Regions from separate parts of the Homo sapiens genome. Here region 1 is linked to region 2. The links come from fine-mapping of genetic effects on gene expression. Tissue or cell type: whole blood. Region 2 holds a variant in brackets; the other region holds the start of a gene. All regions are shown on one strand. Distances are from middle to middle.

Region 1 (8,102 bases), 85 kb after region 2:
GCTTTTCAAGTAAGGAATCATTTCCCCCTCAAAGAGAGTTTCTGATCACCCCAGAAAATGATCGTGGGAACTTCTGAGTCATAGAATAAACATGAATATCAAAGAATAAGTTTACATATTTTGGGAACATGGAACACTTTCTTTTTCTAAGCCTCTGACAGCATTCCTGAGAAGTGCATCTGCCTTGAGTTCAGGGAACTGAAAATCTGTCCTTGGTTTGGCAGCTGACTAGCTCATTGACCTTGGGTTAATCATTTAACTTGGGATCGGCAATTCATAGTCAAAACCATGATTATTGTGATCCAAGAGAAGTCAGCCTGCCTGGGCATGGGGACCCAAAGGTTATAATTTTAAGGATTTCTTCCTTGGGAGTGGAGGCAAAATGCTGATAGTAATAGAGTGGCCCAGATTCAAATGCCTGAACGGTGAGTTTTACCAGGGCCCCCACGCCATTCAGTAAGCTCTCTGGGATTTTCAGTGGGCCTGGGGAGGTATAACTCACTTTGGCTCAGAGCTCTGAAAGCAGAACTTGGGTGGTTTATTAGAATATACAATGGAAGAGTTGGATGAGACCTGAGTAATGATGTTTTTGTTCACCGCTTGTCTCATCAGAGCAATCTTCTGGACACATAAATTTAATGTTCTCATCCTCTGCTTAAAACAGCCTTCCACTGTTCCAAAATAAAAGCCAAAGTCTTCAAAACTGTGTGCACATGTGATCCAGCCCCTGCCTACCTCTTTATATCTTGGTTTTCCTCGTCCCCTTTAATCCAGCCACAAGGACTTTACTCCAGTTCCTCCAATGAACTAACTCTTTGTATCCTGGGCACTCTCTAACCCCTCTTCACTTTTTTTTTTTTTTTTTTTTGAGACAGAGTCTCACTCTGTCGCCTAGGCTGGAGTGCAGTGGTGCGATCTTGGCTCACCGAAACCTCCGCCTCCTGGGTTCAAGCAGTTCTCCTGCCTCAGCCTCCCAAGTAGCTGGGATTACAGGCACCCTGCCACCACACCCAGCTAATTTTTCTGTATTTTTAGTAGACATGATGTTTCACCATGTTGGCCAGGATGGTTTCGAACTCTTGACCTCAAGTGATCCATCTGCCTCGGCCTCCCAAAGTGCTAAGATTACAGGTGTGAGCCACTGCACCTGGCCCCCTCTGTACTTTTTAATTTTTATTCTTCTTTCAACGCTCAGCTCAAATGTCACTTCCCCTAAGAAGCGTTCCCTGAGGCTTCCCCTCCCCATACACGTTAGATCAGATAAAGCTCTTGTAATATTCTTGTAGAACATCCTATTCTTTTGCTTCAGGGCCTTTATCACAATTGATAATTATATACTTACTTTTACTTATTGAATTAATTCCCAGTCTCTCTCAGTAGATTACATGCAGTGTCTGTTTCACTTGCCATTGTATCTCTAATGCCTACTACAAGTGCCTGGCATGTAGCAGACACAACTGCTTGTGAATGAATGAATGGTCTCAGTGATTCTGTAAGGATGAAGGTGATGTAGAGTAGTAGATGGCAGCTCTACTCTGGAAGTCCAGAATACTGCTCTGATTCACACCTGCAAGCCTTATTGGTCAATGACTACTGATATTCCAGCCACCCAAACAACTGCTTTCGGAGAAGCATTAATACCTGCGAATAAAACAAATCTATTCGTTTCATACATTTGGTTCAGAACACTAGGAGAATTTGAGAAGAGACGAGCCAGCCCCAAGCTGTCCTTGTTTCTTTTATTAAGAATAGGCCATGATTTGAGCACATTCTACTACTTGCCTCACTTCAGCCTATTGATGGGGGAAAAGTGAGAGTCTGTGTGTGGGGACTCTGGCTTGGCAGTGAGATCTAACACAGAAAGATCCTGAAGAAATATGCTGACAATGGGGTTTTATCTCTTCAATGCACTGGAGACAAAATCCCTGCTTTTAAAAACAACACTCATACAGAGCCAAGGATGTCCCAGAGTGAACAGTCCTAACCCTTTCTCAGCCTGCCTAAGAGCTCGTTGGTTTCAGAAGGATGAGCCAAGGACTGCTACTTAGAGACTACTGTCTAGGTCAACCCAACTGGCATAAGTAAAGCACCTACTGTTTATAGTAGGAGGCTGCAAGATAACAGGAGATGCAGACTATTGAAGGCTACTGATCTATCTGTGTAGACAGGCAAGAATAAAACAACTGGAGAAGAAATCCAGGATTACACAAAAAGAAGAGCGTGATGGTATGGTAGACTACTCCAGAACAGTGAATTTCCCCTGCATTAAGGATGAGATCCCTATGAATTGGGATCATTCAGGAAGTCTTCTTGGAGAAGAAAAGTTTGAGCATATGGGGAAAAAAAGTTGGATTGGCAAAGAGCTGAGCTGTCAGTAGCTGGGTCCTTAGTAAGTAGGCTGCATGGAGCTGGGAGTTATGCTAAAGGAGTTGTAATTTGGGATGCCTCTAATTAACCATTTTGGGAAAAATATAATAAATCCCTTTGTAGCATCTATAATAAACTGCCCAATATCTATGTGGTGGGGAAAAAGTTTTATTCTACGTTTCACGTGGATGGTGATAACACTAGGTAATCTCAGCATCTTTCTTATTCTCTTGCTAATCCAGGATTCTAAGTAATAATCACTTTGTTCTACAACCTGAATCTAGCCCTTGTACTGTGCAGTTTTTTTCTACACTTATTTTTCCTGTTGTCTGAATCAATCTCCATGGAAGCATAAGTTTTACTGAGTTTCAACCAGCTGTGTCCACCGAGGTAAAGATGGTAAAAATAAAAGGCACAGGGCATATATACCACAGCAGCAGTTACTTCCCACAAGGAACCAGAGATTGGAAGTGAAGCTAAAACATTTTCAGCTACGATAGCATCTCTTTCAAGGTGAGCCATTTCCCCAGGGAGAGTTTCCAGCTCTTAGCAAAGGCAGAACAATAAAACATCAAGGATGTCTTTCTAAGGCTGCAAACAGAATAGCCAATACCTTGAAGCTGATCTGCTTCAGAGTCCTTTAAAAGCCAGGACAGCAACAAAGTGCCCACATTACATTTTCTACAAGCTTGCTAAGCATCTCTTTTCCTAAACCACAAAACCCGAGACATTTCTACAGAACAGGCAGAAAGGGAAGTCCTGGGAGATCAGGGCCCTGTCTCAGCAGGCATCACTCCAGCCTGTCTTTTCCCGAGTGGTTTTCTGCACTTCTCTTCCATCTTTTCCCCTCTGTCCCACACTGGAAGTCACTAGTCTGTGCCCTCCTTACCTCCCATGGTTTCTGCACCTTCATTTCCAAAGGCAAGTGAAAACAGTGCCAGGCTGCGCACATGGGTTACTCCAGGGACTTCTCTTCCCGTTTCCCCTAAAGCATTTGACAGTTAGATCTTGGAACTGAGTCCAGCAGCACTGAGGTCAGAGAGATGGCTAAAGCTAAAAGCAAACTGGATGCTGTTCAGGAGGTTCTCCTTTGTCATTTTTATCTCCAAATAGAAGACCTCTGTTTTCCCAGAAGATTAAATAGTAGAAAAGAAGTAGCCCAAGGTGGGTGACTCTGCAAACAGGTGGGTGAGGTCTCTAGTTGAGTGAGGGGGTGTCTGTGGGTTGTGGGTTCTTCTTATGAGCAGAGCTTGGAGGAATTTGTTCTATTTGTTGTGGTTTTCCCAGGGGGAAGTCGGGGGTGGCTGGGACTCTAATGATCATTATCAGAAGACTTTGGATTAGGCCTCTGAAACTTTAAGATGTGGATCCTCTCGCAATCATGTTAAAATGCAGATCTCCTTTCAATAGGTCTGGGACAGAGCCTGGCTTTTCTATAAAGCTTCTGGTGATGGGATGTCGCTGGTTCTCAGCCACAATTTGAGTAGCAAGAGGTTAGCTTTTCTACTTACTGCCTTCATATCCCCAGTTGGGCTATGTCGTTTTATCAAAACAATGTGGTAAGAGTGAGCGCCAATTACTAGCCTGTTGAATCATCCATTGTTAGAGCTGTTTCTTTGAGGTACATTTAAGAGGCCCCTCCCTGTGGTTCCCCATTGCACAAGAAGCCCATTTGCCAGGCAATACCTTGGGCAAGCAAGCCACTGTGCAAAATTGCATTGGCTCTTCCTGCTGCCAGCCAGGCGGCTGCTGGTTGACGTTGGAGTTGTACAGTTTATGTGATAGTGATGACAGCGCTGGCTCTGAAGGGTACTGAAGATTTTGAAGGGGTACTTCGCTGCAGCAGCTTCACCTCTCACTTTTGTTTACCCACCCCCGAGGCTTGTGGGAGAGAAGGATCAGGCAGAGCTCTGCACGTGCCATGCCAGGGGTGGAGGAATTATATTTTTATTTTTTGCTTTCTCTGCTACAGGACATACCATGCCTTTTACAGATATTTATAGGACAATTTCCCTCCTGAGAGTGCCCAAGCATGGGGGATGGTGAGGAAGATGACTGAAGGAGAAAGCAGGAAAAGGGGGTGTCTGCATGTATGAGGATTGGAAGGTGGGGAAAACCCTTCGTGTTTGGTTCAGCCTTCAAGAAAGAGGAGGGGTTGACTAGATTACAGATGTTAAACCAGGGGTCTGTGGTTCAAACCAGCAACTCTCTGCCCTTGTAAGCTGTATCTGGCTGGTGTGTTAATTTGTCTAGGGTAAGAGCCCCTAGGTTTCAACAGATTGTCCTAGAGTCAATGATACACAAAAGGTTAATCAGCCTCATTTCCAATCAGGATCATCTGCAAGTCCCTCCCAGAGCAGATATTTGGAGCACTAGGCTTCTAGAAGCAGCAGACATCAAGTTCGGGCCATGGGATTAGGGTGGACAGGGCAGCCACTTGGAATCATTTTCTACCAGAGGCAGAAGAGGCTCAGCTAGCAACAGCCCCATTTTACAGAGCAGAAGCCGAGCTGCAGTCAATTCAGTGATTCCTCCTAAAGTAGGGAGTCAGAAGCCGAGCCTGGACTGGAACCTCGGCCTCCTAGCACACAGAGCACAGGTCTACATTGGGGAAAAGCCCCTTCAATCTGGCAGTTGCCTGGAAAGCGCAAGACATTTGCGGCCAGAGCGCCAGGAGCCCAGCTGGTTATTTCTAGCTTCCTGAATGTCAAAAATACAGGCCGCTTCTCAAAGCAGCCTCCACTTGTCAGACCAAATCAAGGCATCAGCGCGTCAAGCAGGCGAATCCTCTGCCCCAGGCACCAGCCTGGGGGCGCACGCCCTGCCTCCGCCCCGCCCCACACGGCGCACCTGACCGGTTCCCGCGGTGCGCCTAACCGCGGGCGGGCGAGCGCTGCACCCACGCACCCGGGCGTCGCTCCCACCTGCACCCCGGCGTCACGCCTGAGCGCAATCTGCAGCCTTCACCCACCTGGGCGGCTGCCTGGCTTTGTTTAGAGTTGGAGTCAGCCCGGCAGCCTGCCTTGGCCGAGTGTGACTAGGGAGCTGGTCTCTGACCCTAGCGGCAGATTGGGCAGGACACACTGCCTTCTCTCTGGTCTCTTTTGGAATCTCCCACTTTCACCTGCTTTTCTTCTTAGCAAAACTGCCACCCCTGCCCCTACCCCAATTCCTCGATAGATCTAAATCAACGGGCTTGTTTGTGCCTCTGCAGAACCAATCCAGTTTTACAGGAACAAAAACAAACCCCAGTCCTGAGCGTCTGTTGGTTTCCCGTCCCAACTTCTGTTCATTCAACAAACATGGGAGCATCTACTGGCTAGGCTTTGGACACAACAGACTGAACTCTACCCCAGGGAACTGGCAGCCCCCAGGGGAAAAGAGAAGCGGATGTTTTTAGGCTGTAATTTAACGGTCGCAGGAGAGTTTGCTAGGGAACATGGGGGCAGGGAATGAGCATTGCAGGCAGAGAGGACAGGCTGGTGAAAGAACACCGCAGGCGGTAGGATCTGCAGGAAGGCAGGGTGGCCGGTGGGCACAGAGAGATGAGGGCAAGTAGCAGTGATGGGCTGAGGAGGAGCCAGGACTCAGCCAGAGAAAGGAGAATTGACTTCATCCTGAGAACAATGCAGGGCCTTGGAAGGTTTAAACAGGGAAGTGACCAATCCAATTTGCTTTCTTAGTGGGACTGGAGAGCGCAAGGCCTGTCAGTCCCAGCACAGGGGCAGCAAGCGGCAGCACCGCTGAAAGTAGCAGCATTTTCAAGGACAGGGGTCATGTTCTCCCACTTGGGGATCAAATTACCTAAGTTTTCTTCTATTTCCACCCCCACGCTGCTGCCTTATTCCTATCCCTGGCCCCACTGTGACTGGTTTGGCCTTCTGCCTCCATTGGCCCTTGCCTAGCCTTTAGGTAAAATGCTAGGTTGACCAGGTGTCCAGAAAAAAAAAAGAATGGATAAAGAAAATATGGTGTGTGTGTGTGTGTGTGTGTGTGTGTGTGTGTGTGTGTATTTAACGATGGAATACAACTCAGCCATAAAAAAGACTAAAATCTTATCATGTGCAGCAACGTGGGTAGAATGGAGAGACATTATGTTGAAGGAAATAACCAGGAAGGCAAAGTTAAACACTGTATGTTCTTCTATGTGAAAGCTAAAAAAAACAGTTGATCTCATAGAAGTAAACAGTAGAACAGAGGACACTGGAGGCTGGGAGGGATGAATAGGGAGAGATTTGTTAAAGTAAACACAATTATAGCTAGATAGGAAGAATAAGCTGTACTGTTCTATACCACTGTGGGATGATTATAGTTAACAATATATAATTTCAAATAGCTAGAACAAGGATATTGAATTTTCCAACACAAAGAAATGATAAATGTTTGAGATAATGGATATGCCAATTACCCTGATTTATTGTACACAATACATATCAAAACATCACTGTGTACCCCCATGAGTGTGTACAATTATTATTTGTCAATTTAAAAATTATTTTAAAAGATGCTAGGTTGACTGTACTCCCAATCCATCACCCTATTTTCAACCATCCATTTGTTCATTGACTCAATAACAATTTCTAAAGTGTTGCTGTGTGCCAGGTGCTGAGTTAGTCATTGTGGGATACAGAATGGGAGATTCATCTGTTTCCTGATCTCAAAGAGCTTAGAATTTATCCAATGTCCAAACTTGCCAGTGCATCAGAATCATCTATAAAGATTTAGAAAAATATAGCCAATTGATCTTCACCCCAGACTGACTGAATCAGAATGTTTCAGGGTAAGTTCCAGGAAGCCATATTATTAAAATTCTCCTCCAGGTAATTTTGTTGAGCAGTCAGAATCTCTGATCCCTAGAGGAATGCTGAAGTGGAATTTCTCTAGTGACCTTTCCTCTACATAGTTGAACAGACTCAGAGTCTGGCTCCTGACCATAAGACAGAGAAATCACCAGAGAAGACAGGGCAACCGCAGTCCAACTGAGCTGTAAGCCTGGGACCTGCTCACTCACCTTCAAGAAAGCAGGAGGGGCAGGAGGGATGGGTAAATGTAAGGAAAGAGAAGAATGTACTGGGATGGCGGGGTGGGTTGTACATGCCTAGAGTGGAAGATGCCTCTCTATCTAAATTTTATAAATTGTCCATTTAGAAAGCAGAAGACCAGCTCTCTGGCTTGTTGAAACAAACACTCCTTCTTTCTCAGCCACATCTTGATTACTATGGTCAAGTAGGGATGATTGTGCTGGCCAATTTCAAATGGTAGCCCTGATGAATTATAACAAATAATCTCCACGTGCTTTATACACATGCCCATGTCCCCACCAATTAAGTCTGAGTACTAGGGCAAATTGAAGCAAAGGGTGGTGGGGGGTGATCCTGTTAGCTTGCTGTCCTCAGAAATAGCCTCTCCAAGGTACTCTAAAAAGCAGCGGTTCTGTTGGATCATGCCTGGAAAACAGGTCTCCTTGGAGTTTGAGGGGATTAAAATTTTAGTTCCAGTTAACTTTCTGTCTCTTGGTGAAGACTGTTCCCAGAAATCTAATTGTGAAGTATTTATTTGTTGACAGCTAATGATGAGTCAGCTACTGTGATGCCTTAAACATGAATATGTTTCCAATCTTCCTGGAAAGATGAGATACAGTTATACGTAAAAGTGAATAAACACAAGACTTATTTCCAGACAACACTAGAAGAGATGGTTTTGTGGGTATCTGAAGTTCTATATCCTGAAAGCTT
Region 2 (8,107 bases):
TGGTTCCATTTTATTATTTTTATTTTTTATTATACTTTAAGTTCTAGGGTACATGTACACAACATGCAGGTTTGTTACACATGTATACATGTGCCATGTTGGTGTGCTGCACCCAGTAACTCGTCATTTACATTAGGTATATCTCCTAATGCTATCCCTCTCCCCTCCCCCCACCCCACAACAGGCCCCAGTGTGTGATGTTCCCCTTCCTGTGTCCAAGTGTTCTCATTGTTCAATTCCCACCTATGAGTGAGAACATGCAGTATTTGGTTTTTTGTCCTTGCGATAGTTTGCTGAGAATGATGGTTTCCAGCTTCATCCATGTCCCTACAAAGGACATGAACTCATCCTTTTTTATGGCTGCATAGTATTCCATGGTGTATATGTGCCACATTTTCTTAATCTAGTCTATCACTGATGGACATTTGGGTTGGTTCCAAGTCTTTGCTATTGTGAATAGTGCCACAATAAACATACGTGTGCATGTGTCTTTATAGCAGCATGATTTATAATCCTTTGGGTATATACCCAGTAATGGGATGGCTGGGTCAAATGGTATTTCTAGTTCTGGATCCTTGAGGAATCGCCACACTGTCTTCCACAATGGTTGAACCAGTTTACAGTCCCACTAATAGTGTAAAAGTGTTCCTATTTCTCCACATCCTCTCCAGCACCTGTTGTTTCCTGACTTTTTAATGACTGCCTTTCTAACTGGTGTGAGATGGTATCTCATTGTGATTTTGATTTGCATTTCTCTGATGGCCAGTGATGATGAGCATTTTTTCATGTGTCTGTTGGCTGCATAAATGTCTTCTTTTGAGAAGTGTCTGTTCATATCCTTTGCCCACTTTTTGATGGGGTTGTTTGTTTTTTCTTGTAAATTTGTTTGAGTTCTTTGTAGATTCTGGCTATTAGCCCTTTGTCAGATGAGTAGATTGCAAAAATTTTCTCCCATTCTGTAGGTTGCCTGTTCACTCTGATGGTAGTTTCTTTTGCTGTATATCAACAGTTTTCTAATGATTGCAAACTTAGTACAAGGGAGGCTTTCTCCCATTTGAAAGTAGGGGCAGTATTTTCCAGACTCACTCTTCTAGAAGCCACTGAAAAAGAAGCAAAATATTTACATTTAGATGGATATGGTGTTGGGCCATCTAACTTGCTAGTAATCAGTCTGCACCTGTACTTGCAATAGCTGTGTTCAGATTCGATTTTCTTTTTTCTGAGAACATCAACAGTACAAAGCAACTTCCATCCATCTCCTTGCTTAAATCTCATTAGAACTTTGGGAGGCCAAGATGGGAGGATTGCTTGAGTTCAGGAGTTTGAGACCAGCCTGGGTAACATAGTGAGACTTTGTCTCTACAAAAAATAAAAGATTAGTTGGGTGGTGGCATTTACCTGTAGGCCCAGCTACTCAGAAGACTGAGGGAGGAGGCTGAGGCGGGAGGCTGAGGCAGGAGGATCGCTTGAGCCCAGGAATTTGAGGCTGCAGTGAGCCATGATCGTGCCACTGCACTCCAGCATAGGCAATAGTGAGACACTGTCTCAAAAAAAAAAATCCACAAAAATCTCATTAGAAAGAATTTCAGAAAAAAGAAATCCAAATAACTCATATTGAAGAATTCAAATTGCATCTGCAAAGTAGGTATTATAGAACACACTCTTGTAAGCCATCACTGCCAAAACTAATGTTTTTGTTTGTGAAAGAAGTTCATTTAAGAAGGACCTCCATTTCAATTAGTATCATATAAAAAACAAACTGGCAGGCAAATTAAGAAACAACTGAGAGCTGGGCGTGGTGGCTCAGGCCTGTAATCCCAGCACTTTGGGAGGCTGAGGTGGGTGGATTACCTGAGGTCAGAAGTTCAAGACCAGCCTGGTCAATGTAGTGAAACCTTGCCTCTGCAAAACATACAAAAAATTAGCCAGGTGTGGTGGTGGCCACCTGTAATCCCAGCTACTCGGGAGGCTGAGGCAGGAGAATAGCTTGAACCCAGGAGGCGGAGGTTGCAGTGAACTGAAGTCGCACCATTGCACTCCAGCCTGGGCGACAGAGCGATACTCTGTCAAAACAAACAAACAAACAAAAAAAGAGAAACAACTAGGGGAAAAACCAGTAAAACTACCTAGATGATATCAATGGGAAATCACTGCCAGAATCTATGTGGTTAACAGGCAGGATATAGCTCTATGACCAGTCCTTGTACTAACAATGATACCTGTTATTTCTTCTGAACAGAATCTGAATTAAAGCTCTCAAAAAGCAGCCATTTTACTTGAAGGTGGGAGTATCACTGACTAGTGATCCAGATTAATTTATAGCTAGATTAACTAGGTTGTGATCATCTTAGAAAGCAGGAATAAGTCTCTAATAGGTTTGGATTCATCTTTAGGGTGTTCAGGTATAGGTGGGATGGATTAGAACTGTGTTTCCCAAACTTAAGTCACTTGCCAATTACTTTTATGATTTTTGCCACTTCTGATCATGTACCACTTTTTGACATTTCTTATGTCATATTTTTCTTTAAGATGATTTAATTTGAAACTTAAATACATTTGTTTTAAAAAAGACTTTATCACTCCTGTAAACAGGAAACCAGCATAACTTGCTATAAACAGAGAGGAATTGTGTGCTGGGTGCGGTGGCTCATGTCTGTAATACCAGCACTTTGGGAAGCCAAGGTGGGAGGATTGCTTGAGCCCGGAAGTATGAGACCAGCCTGGGCAACATAGCAAGACCCCATCTCTACAAAAAGTAAAAAATTAGCTGGAGGTGGTGCTGCATGCCTACAGTCCCAGCTACTTGAGGGGCTGCGGGGGGAGGATCCCACCTCCTGAGTCCAGGAGTTAGAGGCTGCAGTGAGCTGTGATGGTGTCACTGCACTCAGCCTGGGCAACAGAGTGAGACCCTATATCAAAAAAGAAAAGATAGTAATTGTGAAAATAAAAAAAATAAAAACCAACGTTATTATATTTTAGTTAAATACCATCCTCTCAGAAGGCTGTGATCCCAAAGTCTGCTGTCTTTTTGTTGAAAAATAGAGTAGTGAACACCAGAAGTGTTAAGTATGTGCTAATATCAAACTAAGACTCTTCTCCTGAGTCAATCAAAAGAACTGAAGAAAACTGGAAAAGGAAAAACCTGTCTCCCTCCATGTCGTCTCCTGCTGTTCTCCGCTGCCTCATCCCGGGCTAGCTCCAGGGTCCTCTGTGCTGTTCTGTTCCGCCAATTCACTGACTCCACTCCTGTCTCATTACCTTCACACTTGTGGTTTCCTCCTACCAGATAGATAAGTTTTCCCCCAGATCCTTACAGAGTTCCATCGCTCACTGGTCTCTACTCAAAGGCTGTTTCTACTTTTCTTTTCTTACTTTCTTTCTTTCTTTTTTTTTTTGTTTTTTGAGACGGGGTCTGGCTCTGTTGACCAGGCTCGAGTGCAGTGGTGCAATCTCAGCTTACTGCAACCTCTGCCTCCTGGGTTCAAGCGATTCTCCTGCCTCAGCCTCTGGTGTAGCTGGATTACAGGTGCCTGCCACCATACCCGGCTAATTTTTGTATTTTTAGTAGAGACGGGGTTTCACCATGTTGGTCAGGCTGGTCTCGAACTCCTGACCTCAGGTGATCCGCCTGCCTCAGCCTCCCAAAGTGCTGGGATTACAGGCATGAGCCACTGCCCCCGGCCAAATGCTGCTTTTTCTGATAGGTGTTCCCTGACTGACCACAGTCAGTAAAATAGCTCCTCCATTCATTCATTCATTCATTCATTCATTTATTCATTCTGGGTGAACTTCCATTGCAGTCCATCTATTTGGCTTCCTTCCTTGTCTTACCCTGTTTTTTTCTGAATGGCAGGATTCTCTTTGCTATACAGCCAATCAAAAAATATAATTTATTCTTCTCCTGTTAGTTAAATAATATTGTTTGGTTTATAGGTAGGGTTAATTTTTATTTAAAAAACATGTAGGTGTAAAAATTACAGAAGAATATACAAAACACTTTAACCATTTAATCTTCAGGTAGTAGGAGTTGTGGTGATTTTTATTTCCTTTGTTATACTTTTCTGAATTGACTGATTTTATTCCCAGTAAATTCAGTTTAAGATGACAAAATCTCTGTTTTTTGTAGTTATAAACTTGTACTAGTCATAAACATGTGCTAGCTCCAAGTGAAAAAATTAGTGCTGTTCAACATAAATTCTCAGGATATTATACTCGAGAGCCAGTAGGAATAAGGGCAAAGAAACAAGCGTTAAGGCAAGTAAATTAGATGATGAGAGAAAACCTAGTCTACAAAGTTACCATTTAAATCTTGAACTCCGGACAGCTATTTCATAAATGGTTTTCTTTGGTCATACAAGGTGACCATGGGTCATATAAGGTAATGTTAAAATCACAAGTCAGGGTTTCTGTCTGACTGCTGGTGGGTCAGATATCTTCCCCTCCCATGAAAGAAAAGTCATTCTTTAGTGTTAATAATCTTGTCATGTCTGTAGAAATGAGCACTTCCTCTTCCACCACCAAGCTCCCCACCCCAAATTCTGCTTGGGACATTATACTGCAGGCTAATGATCTAAACAAAATTAAGATTCATTAAATTAACAATTCCATTGTTCCTAATTAAGATTTTACTTTGCACTTAAGATATTGAACCATAC[A/C]TAGCCCTGTGTATATTTTTAATGCAAGCAAATATTAATGAAGCAAATTTGTCATTTTCATTTGTGTATTTTGGACAAAGGTTTGTTTATACTCAGTGAAATGATAATTTTTTCTGGTAATTTCTCCTTTTCCCAGCAAAGAATGCTTAATCTCCTTTCTGAAAATGATTTGATTTGGGCAGCAAATCCTACGTTGAGAATTCTTCCCAGATCTCAAGTTATATAACTGAACAGATGGTATTCGCATGGCTTTGACAGGTCAGGCTGCTATCACAGGACATCCTGAGGAAGCAGCTCGGAAGCCTTCCCGAGGAGAGTGGGAAGATCCCGTGAGCAAGCAGGCACGTGTGGCTGTGGGATTGGGTGAAGAACTGCACTCTGACTCAGCTTCCCATCTTCATGGCCCAGGAGCAAATTCCTCAGGATCCTGAAAGAGGTACAAATAATCCTGCAGAAACTAGTGGTACATTTGATTGAATCAGAAAAATAAACAAATCTTTCCTGTGGGAGAAAACAAAGTCTCTCAGGGAATGTGATACAGGAAGAGTGATTTGGTTTGTGGTCATGGTTGAAGTGCCACAGGTAGATGGACAGTGAATTGGATGTGTTCTAATTGTACCTTGGGCTTGCAGCATGATGGGGCAAAAATGGGAAAAATATCCCTGTCTTCACAGAGTTTGCAGCTTATTGGGAGAGAAAAAAATCACTCAGTCAATAAATACATGAACAAACACACACATGAGAGTGATAAGTGCCAAGGAGAAAAAAAAATGCTGAGAAGGGGGATACAGAGATATGTGTATAAAATTTTAGATAGAAATCCTCTTTTAAAAAAGATGTCATTTGAGTAAAGAAAGACCTGAAGGAAATGAGAGAGAAAACCATGTATATAGCAGGGAAAGAGAACTCCAGTAAGCAGAAACAGCCAATGCAAACGCCCTGAGCCAGGGAAATGCCCGGAGTGTCCAGGGACCCATAAAAATCCCCATGCGGCTAACGCAGAGCACACTGGGGAAGCAGTGTGCAAGATGAGGTTTGAAAGCCAGTGTGAGGTCAGATCATACAGAGTCTTGAAGTTCACAGCCTGGAATTGCCTTTTCATCTAAGTGAGATGGAAAACAGGAGGGTCTGGAGCAGACAAATGACATAATTTGGATTATTGTTTACTGGGATCGCTCTTTGTAGGAAATAGGTTGTGGGGCAGCAAGGGCAGAGGCAAGGGGCAGGGCAGTGAGGGGCAGGGAAGAAGCATCTAGAAGGCTATTGAGATAATTCAGGCAAGAGAGGAAGGTGGATTGGACCAGGATGGTGGCAGTCTAAGCAGCAAGAAGTGGGTAAATTCTGGATATATTTTGAAGGTAGAATCAACAGGTCTGGTTAATGGATTAGATGCATTGTATGAGAAAAAAAAAGAGAAGTTTAGGGTTATTCCAAAGTTTGGGGGCTACACAACTGGAAGGATGGAGTAGATCTGAGAAGCTTAATAAGAAGGAGGAGAATGTGGGAAGGGCAGGTTTGGAGGATATCAGGACATCTGTTTGGAATATATTATGTTTGAGATGTTGAGTGGGCAATTGAATGCACAAGTCTGATGTGCCAAGGAGAGATTTGGGCTGAAAATATAAATGAGACAGTCATCAGTACAGACAGGGCATTTAAAGCCATGAGGCTCCATGAGTTCACCTAGTGATGGATACTGTGTACAGAAACCAAAAGAATATGCAGAGAGTGATATTCTGTATGGAATGCTGCTGGTAAGTACAATGAGGCAAGCTGAGCATTGGGTTTAGCCATATGCAAGTCATCATTGATCTTTATAAGAGCAGCTTTTTAGAATCTAGGGCAAAAGGTTTGCTGGACTGGGTTCAAGAGAGAATGCAGACATTGGACACAGCGAGCAAAGACACTCCATTCAAAAACATTTGCTTTACAGGGAAGAGGAGAGATAGTGGTAGTTGGATGGGAAGACGGGATCAAGAGAGGATTTAAAAATTTTTTTAATTGAAGAACTATATATATGGTAAAGATGCTTACTGCTTGTGTATCGCTCTATAATTTTCACAACCAAACACACCCAAGTAACTAGTACTCATTTCAAGAAAAATAATAGTGCTAGTCCCCAAGAAGTCTCCTGCCTCCTCCCTCTCAATCACTGTCCCCACCCAAGGGCAACAACTATCTTGAACTGACTTCTAAAACCCAATTCATTTTCCCACTTTTGTACTTTGCATAAATGAAATCATACAGTTCATGCTCTTCTGCATCTGTTTTTTTTGCCAGTATGTTACATTTGCAATATTCATCTATATTGTTGCCTGTAATTACGGTTTGATCATTCTTATTGCTATATAATAATCTATTGTGTGAGTATACCAAGATTTATTGATCCCTTCTACTGTTGCCAGGCAAATGGGTATTTTCCAGTTTTACAAATAGTGCTACTATGAGCATTCTAGTACATGTCGTTTGGTGAGCATACGTACACACTTTACTGGGTATATTTCTGTGAGTGGAATTGCTGGGGCATAGAGAATGCATATATTCAGGTTTAGTTTTCCAAAATGGCTATATCGATTTATGCTCCCACTAGCACTGTAAGGGAGACTTTATCAGTAATAGAGGTGATATTATAACATCTTCATCTGTTACTCCTTTGTCTTATATCTTAATTTTTTGAGAATTAAGGGGATGAAGAGGGGTAGTGATTACTGGGCCCGCTCAAAATCTTAAGGAAGAGACTGCTGCTCATAGGGTTGTTGTGAGGAGTGACCGACTGTAAAATACCTGGCATCATCCTGGCCCAGGATATGTATCCAGCATATGTTAGTTGTTGCTCTAATTTTGTAGTCACCCTCTCAGCCTTGTCTCCAGGCAGAGGTCAAGGTAAAGCAGTGATAACTGCAGTTTCCTTCTCCTCTAAATCACACTCATCCATCCAATTTGCTTTATAGCACTGGGAAACGGTGAGCGCTCAGGATGCTTCACTGACCATATTGCAGGACCAAGAATAAATAACACAGAAGCTCACCTACCTCTCTTCATAACTTTCTCTGCATCCTCCTGTTAGACCAGGCATTTCATCAGGTTCCTGGAGGGGTTAAAGAACAGTCATGTGTTCGATTTCATTGTAAATCATCTAATAAACCATCTATAGAAAAAGCATACACTAGAGATGGTTTATACCACCACTGAACTCTAATAGCGGCAATCCTAAGGCGGGCTGGTTAAATTATAGCTGGATGTAATTCCTTGCCGTTTGCTGCTATCTGGAGATGTTCGTTGTTTATTTAACAAATAAATTTAATATACTTCTGCATTTAAAAAAATTTCTTTCCTTATAGGTATGTCCATCCAAAAGGAGCATATGTGACTAAAATCATCATGATATCCAAGGAGGTGAATTGATTTTTACAGGATTGTGTCTGATTATATCTTTTATCTCCACATCAAAA

The links. PIP is the estimated chance that this variant, and not a neighbour inherited with it, causes the effect.
Region 1: it holds the start of LINC03033, and the variant in region 2 is fine-mapped to the expression of LINC03033 in whole blood (TOPMed, PIP 0.98). The same link has a PIP of 0.9 or more in thyroid.

Annotation. Positions count from the first base shown.
Region 1 is chr14:61,565,915-61,574,016 of GRCh38, reverse strand. It overlaps LINC03033 (long intergenic non-protein coding RNA 3033), which reads right to left and starts at 3,477. Exons shown (of 3, transcript NR_039985.1): 1 at 3,257-3,477. LINC01303 (long intergenic non-protein coding RNA 1303) reads left to right here and starts at 3,364. Exons shown (of 5, transcript NR_110416.1): 1 at 3,364-3,531; 2 at 4,340-4,473. RefSeq lists silencers at 4,187-4,379, 5,120-5,279, 5,360-5,429 and enhancers at 4,771-5,270, 5,271-5,772.
Region 2 is chr14:61,650,598-61,658,704 of GRCh38, reverse strand. LINC03033 (long intergenic non-protein coding RNA 3033) reads right to left here. Exons shown (of 3, transcript NR_039985.1): 2 at 7,688-7,743; 3 at 3,992-5,082. Among named protein-coding and RNA genes, the nearest start is that of HIF1A, 41 kb to the left of the region's middle. The variant A/C (reference allele first, on the strand shown) is at 4,656.